Linked DNA regions of Homo sapiens. The protein of the gene in region 1 interacts with the protein of each later gene in a pairwise test. Each region holds a gene or a part of one and is shown on either strand. Other genes may lie near its edges.

Region 1 (3,781 bases):
AATGACATTAGTATTAACCAACATCAGCAGTCTGTATTCTGTAAGGAATTGAGCTCATACAATGAATCACCTCGAGTATTTTTTAAACACAAAATTACAACAATTTATAAATGTTAATCTTTAAAATGCACTTGAGAATGATTGTCCCAAAGGTTAAGTGGAAGCTTTTTCAAAAAACAGATCACAAGGAACTATGCCAACCCTTTCCTAAAAATTTCTATAAAATTCAAAGGAAGAAATAAACAGGAAATCTAGTTTACAAATGAAATTTAATATAGTAGTCGTATATTTATAGGCCAAGAGCTCATACGTAAAATGTGTGAAGGAACACAATGGTCAGATATTGAGATGCTGGCAACTGCTCATCTGCCAATGCTGAATTTGGTAATTCCTCATTTATACAGAGGGAAATTAAGTACCAAAGGGCTAGAATAATTTACTTATTGTGGACAAAAAAGTTAAGGACAAACTAAACTTAGTCCAGATAATTCTCAGATCCTCACACACATAAAACAACTTGCATTTATTTTATTTTTATTATTTATTTATTTTTTCGAGGCCAAGTCCCCCTCTGTCACCCAGGCTGGAGTGCAGGGGCATGATCTCGGCTCACTGCAACCTCCATCTCCCAGGTTCAAGTGATTCTTATGCCTCAGCCTCCTGAGTAGCTGGTACTATAGGCGAGCACCACCACGCCTGGCTAATTTTTGTATTTTTAGTAGAGATGGGGTTTTGCCATGTTGACCAGGCTGGTCTCAAACTCCTGAGCTCAAACAATCTGCCCACCTCAGCCTCCCAAAGTGCTGGAATTACAAGCGTGATCCACCATGCTTGTCCTTGTATTTCTTTTAACAAGAGAAAGACTGTGTCTCTTCTGTTCTCCTTTGTCTTCAAGAACTGATTTTTATAGTTTATTAAATATTAAAATTACATAGCTTGTTATAAATTAATTTGTATTTTGCAGACAATAACCATTATAAATATCACTTAGATCTGCAACTATTTTTTATTAACTTTACTGTTTGCATTAAAAAGACAGCACTTTTCGGGTACAGTTAGATAGTCCAATTCAACAGTAAGAACCATTTTAACTCCTAAAACTGAACAACTGTATTAGTTATGAACACTAGATACAAGTCATGAAACTCCAGCTTGAATTTACTTAGGCAAAAAGAGATTTTATGAGAAGGATATCAGAATATTTCATGTACATAAACAAGAGCAAGGCCTGGAGTCTTATACAGCTTGACCCCAGGAACAAGGAAGCGAAGCACCCTCCCTCCCTCCCTCCCCTTTTGTGCTTTTAGTGGTTCCGTTTCAGTCACCTCCATTAGGGTGTGGGCTTTCTCACATGGTGACCACCAGCAGCTTCCAAGCCCCTGATCCACAGCTTCTACTGGCAGAAATAGTCATCTACTCTTTTAGTGCCCATTCAAAAATCCTAAGGACAAACCCATCTGCCTGCCTTGAGCTGCATGACTATATCCAGGAAGATGGAATACCCTTAGTCACAGACCACCTAAAGGGCATGGTTAGAATCCAAGTAGAAACAATTCTCCACAAGAAGCAGGGCAGGCTGCTGGACAGACAAACTGAGAATAATCAAGTAAAACAAAACAAGCACAAACTCTGAAAGCTCAGGCAATGCCAGAAAGGTCAGGTGACACAAGGTTGAATACCGAAAGTTGGCATTAAAGCATTCTTTGAGTGAGAGAGACAGAGAGAGATTTATCTATAGTTATATTTTACTTCTATGTCCCAGTAAAAATAACAAATAAATAACTTTAAAACTTGGTAATACATCATTTTTCTCTCCCCTCTCTTAGATGTTTTTCTGTCACCTTCCCCTGTCATTTGTTTTGGGTCTATAAATTGCCCCTCAAAACTTATGCAAAGCATAATGTGTTCATCAGAATTGTTTCAGGGTTGTATGCGTTAGTTTTAGGATCCAGAGCTTCGCGTGTGCTTTTTTTTTTTTTTTTTTTTTTGAGATGGAGTCTTGCTCTGTCACCCAGGCTGGAGTGCAGTGGCAGGATTTCGGCTCACTGCAAGCTCTGTCTCCTGGGTTCACGCCATTCTCCTGCCTCAGACTCCTGAGTAGCAGGGACTACAGGTGCCTGCCACCACGTCTGGCTAATTTTTTGTATTTTTAGTAGAGGCAGGGTTTCACAGTGTTAGCCAGGATGGTCTCAATCTCCTGACGTCTTGATCCGCCCGCCTCGGCCTCCCAAAGTGCTGGGATTACAGGCGTGAGCCACCGCGCCCAGCCCTTGCGTGTGCATTTCTTTATTCCGGATTCGCAGCATCATCTTTTGGGCTTTGGGAGTCTGATGTAATTTCCAGTTCATACTCCTTTTTCAATTGCTGCACTTTCATGTTTAGGTCCAGTAAAGTTCTAGCCAGCTGGTGGTTTTGGAAATGCATTTCCACCTAAAAGTTAGAAAAAAATAAAAATTTTATTAGCCTGAGATGCAGATCAAATGAAACCACTCTCTGACTACACAGAAGAAATAAGAAGTTTGTAGGAAAAGAAAATAAGATATCAAGGAAGATGTATTTCTCATCTTATTCTCCAGTTTTAACTGTTTGGTCTGGCTATAAAACTGACTTTCTATATGACAAGGTAAAATCCAGATATATAAATAGTTTTTGAAATGGCTTGAAATGAAAACAAAAGTAGCTGATGCACAAAGCTGTCCATATGAAAAATACCTATGCACCGAAGGCTGTTTTCAAGGAATAGCATGTGATCCACAATGAAATCATTTATCTTTATGCGCCTTCTGAGCCACAGGATAACTGCCTACAGCCACCTGAGTATTCAGAATCTGTGCTATTTACTTGATTACTTATCATTTCAAGTTTTCAGGATTTTAAATGGTCTACCTGCTGAGCAAAAACATTTAATGACACCTTAGAGACACATGTATAGTTATGTGTACTTATATAATCTAACATTTTTCACTCTGGAGTGAAATCTGTTTCATATCAAGGCTGATTTATACCATCCTTCAATGGGAGTTTATGAAGGTCCTCGTGCGTTTAAAAAAAGATCTCTAGGGCATGTTACCCGGGGGCAGTCCAAGAAAGCTTAGTCCAACATAATCTTTGTATTATAACTGAAAACTAATGATCAACTACTTGCAAATTTCTTCAGCTAGGGCTTGTTTAATGCAGTTCACGAGGAATTTGTTCTCTCTGCTAAAAAAGCTTCATCAGCTTGTCAATAGAAACCACCCCAGGATGAACCAGGACAGTGTGTTGGTAAAAAGCAAATATTCATGGTCATCTGATTTGCAAAATAAAGCTACTGGATAAAATTATCTTTCAGTTTTTCTCTGAGACATTCCTCTCCATTCTGAAGCACCTAGAATCATTTTTCTGACAGCAAGAATTAGCAAAGAATAAAGTAAATGAATATCCAGCAAACAAGCACTAACAGTAACCACACAACCACCACAACAAAAAACCCTTGCACCTTGCCTGCAGGAAGCTTCAGCTCTCTAGGGTGGCCCAGATGCTCTATAATCCTGCCCTACTTTGAGCTTCCTTTCCTGGCCCTCTTTCCCATGCCAGCTCCCATTGCAGCTGGTCAGAAACCTTGCCAGTCCCTAAATAAATGCTGAGCTGAAGCTCACCTCTTTCTGTCCCCATTTCTGTTTAAGATGCCCTTTGCCACCTCTCTCTGCTGAACCCAGTCAAATGCCAGCTCTTCTGAGAAGCCCTCCCTGATTGCATGGGCAGACATAATTGCCTCTCATCTGTGCATCCACAGCACTCT
Region 2 (3,500 bases), on another chromosome or scaffold:
TCTGCCCGCCTCGGCCTCCCAATGTGCTGGGATTACAGGCATGAGCCACCATGCCCAGCCTAGTAGCATATGTTTTTCTAAAGCAAATCCATGCCATTTCTAGGATGTGTGCTAGGTCTGTGGACATTTCTGGCCTCTCTAAAATTTCTTTACCATTTTTTCTCCAAAATTATCTTTCAGTTAAAATATAGCATACCCAGAAATCCTGGAAAAGAAAGATATCTAACTGCTTTTTAAAAATTACTGATATATAATTTTTTAAATGTTGTATTTAAAAAATACCAAATTAAATGTTTTTAAGGATCCTGTTTGTTTTCAATTTCACTTAGAAAATGATGCTATAGTTTAGCTTGAAATAATGGTCTAATTTTTTCCTCTTTGGCAAGATAATTTTAGATACTGAAAAAGCACAAAATAAATCTCCTTCTAGACTTGATTCCTTTGTCAAGACTTTGGAAGCAGACAAAGATCACTATAAGAGTGAAGCTCAACATTTGAGAAAGATGATGCGAAGTAGGTCTAAAAGTCCAAGACGCCCATCACCAACTGCCCGGGTAGGTTTTATAAACTTACAAATATTTTGGAGTTTGTTGCCCAGACACTGGCTTTTATTCTTTGTTTTACCTAATTTGAAAATAATTTGTTTTGATTTGCTGTGAATTGCTGTTTCAAAGGGGTTGAGAGACAGAGGTCTCTTTGATGGCACAGTAGACTACTGATATTGGTTCTTTATCCTCAGCATAATTAGCACTTGGGAGGTAATCAGGCAAATGTGGAATAATTTGGAATGAAGCTGTTTTAAAAAGATGTGGTTTTTAAACTTATTTTTTATAATTTCCTTTCATTATATAGTCTTATTTTCTTAAATAGAAATTGGGCACTACCATCAGTAGCACCTTTCTATCAGTACTATATATCAAAGAAGATTTCAAATTCCTTATATAATTATAGGGTGCAAACTGTGATGTAGAACTTTTGAAGACAACAACAAGAGATCGTGAAGAACTTAAATGCATGCTGGAAAAATATGAGCGCCATTTGGCAGAAATTCAGGGTAATGTCAAGGTTCTTAAATCTGAGAGAGACAAGATCTTCCTTCTTTATGAACAGGTAAACTTACAAAAAACAAATTATATAAGTAATAACATTGAGTTCTAGAGTTATGTAATTCTTCTTTGAGTTTTATGAGACTGCTTAAACCTGCAAATCAAGTTAATCTAACATTTGGGGATTACATATGTTTTTAAGATATTCTTAATGAAATGTAGTACATTTCCAATACAGTAGGTATGTGAGTACACACGTATGTTATCCCCATAGCCAAAAATCATACACATGTATAAAAATAGTCTTATTTTTGGAATAAGATATGAAGAAACCGTTAAATGATAAGTTGTTATGAGTTCAAGGTAAAAAGATCAAATCCTGACCTTTTTACCTTGAACTTGCCACACCTTATCACATCACTTTAGGAACTTTTATATAATTTGCTTAATTTTAGAGAATAAAAGAAGTATGTAGTTTATCTCTGCTTTCTAGCTTAGAATTGCATAGCTTTTATTAATCAAATACCTTCTTTAACCCAACAAGTATTAAATCCTATAAATCACCCATATAACTTCTTTTAAAAGTATCACAATTTTTTAACAAATTATAGCTACTATACACAGGGTTCTAGGCTCACTACTCTAAGGGATAGAAAAATGATAAGATGCTGACCATGTTTTCCTATAAATTTACAGTCTAGTTAGGGAGATAAAGTATATTGTATTTATTGATTTTTATTAAGTGGTCTAGAAGATATTATAAGAAACAAAAGAAGTGGGCATTTTTAGATATGGTGATCAAGGAAATCTTTATTAAAAGATACAAAGTGTGAGCCCTGAAAAATGAATGGAGTTTCTATTACCCTGAAAGGGGCTAGAAGGAACAATCCAAACTAAAGGAATGGTATGAGGCAAAGGATAAAGGTAGGAAAATCAGCAGATAAATAAATTGGTTTAAGACTAGAATAGAGGGTATGTGTCAGTGGAGAAGGGAGAGAGCTAAGACTTGAAAGGTAAGATTGCACTAGAGCAGGAATCAATATACTTTTTCTGTAAGGCCCAGACAAAAAATATCTTCTGCTTTGCAAGCCATGTGGTCTCTGTTGTAACTAATCAGCCCTATTGTTGTAGGGTGAAAGCAGCTTTGGACAATACATAAATGAATAACTTTGGCTGTATTACAGTAAAACTTTATGGATACTGAAATTTGAATTTCACATCATTTTTACTTGTTTTAAAATACTCTTTTGATATTTTCCCCAACCATTTAAAAATGCAAAAATATTTCTCCACTTACAGACCTACAGGAGGCAGGCTAGATGTGGCCTGTGAGTTATATATAGCTTGCTGACTTCTGGACTAAATGGTACAGGCTGTTCAATGGGCCTTATATGGGGTTTATATTTTGCTTCATAAGCAACAAACAATCTTTTTTTTTTAAAGGCAGGCAAAATATGAACAAAGTATCATTTTTACAATTTTACAATTTTAACCTTATGGCAAATTTTTATTTCTCACATAATCTTTCTATACTGTCTTCTTATTTAACAATTTCTCCTTTGAGAGAATTGATGGAGGGAGAGACCATGGACTCCTCTTTAGAAGGCTGTTACACTAGTGCACATATAAGGCATTAAGGGACTAAGCAAGGGTGTTTCAATGGAGATAAATATAGGGACAGATGCAAAAGACCCTGTGAAGGAAGATTTGACATGATTTGCTTTTAGGAAGAAGGAGGGTTGCATGACAGTGACTAAAATTCTGTCTTGAATGACTCAGCAATGTGGTAATAAAATAAAAAATAGGAGAGTCATTGGTGGTTTGAGGAAAAAGATGTGAGTTTGTTTTTAGACAGAGTAAGATAATGATAGCACACTCAGGTCGTAATTGCCATCAGACTGTAAGAAATGTGGGACTGGAGTAGAGAGAGGCAAGAGTTAAATAGTTAGCTTTGGAAGTCATCTGCTTAGAGGTGAGCTTCGAGCCTTCAGAGTGGATGAAGTCTCTGAATGAGAAAACTGTACATAGAGGAGCAGAAACGTTAAGTTATAATATTCAAGATGCAGAAGGGAACCTTTGAAAGAGACAAAGATGACAGACAGCTAGGGAGGAACAATGTTAAAAGGGAGGAAGGAATCTCAAGAAGAAGGATGTTGTGAGCAGCAACAGACCACTGAAATATCAAGGAGAACAGGAACTGAGAAAAGACCATTATATTTGGTTAGGTCTTTAGTTGAAATTCCACAGAAGGTGGGAGGGTGGGAGCCAGGTTGTTCTGGGGTGATAGAATGGATGGTAAGGAACCATTGGCAATAGTTATAGACCATGGGACTTTTTTTTTTTAATGTGTCGCAGGAAGAAGAGACATAGGATGGTAAATTGGTCAGCAGGATCAAGTGACAGGTTTTCAAGATAAGGGAGCACTGTACATGACTGAAGGCAGGGGAGAAAGTG

The links.
Region 2: the proteins of AARD (region 1) and TSGA10 interact in binary tests that used the Homo sapiens proteins (3 or more experiments, as listed by UniProt).

Annotation. Positions count from the first base shown.
Region 1 is NC_000008.11:116,941,207-116,944,987, reverse strand, and holds the end of AARD (alanine- and arginine-rich domain-containing protein), read right to left. Parts: intron 2,431-3,781; coding exon 2,287-2,430; 3' UTR 501-2,286; downstream 1-500.
Region 2 is NC_000002.12:99,106,443-99,109,942, reverse strand, and holds part of TSGA10 (testis-specific gene 10 protein), read left to right. Parts: intron 1-386; coding exon of another isoform or gene 387-503; coding exon 504-554; intron 555-951; coding exon 952-1,110; intron 1,111-3,500. UniProt on the Homo sapiens protein: Plays a role in spermatogenesis. When overexpressed, prevents nuclear localization of HIF1A.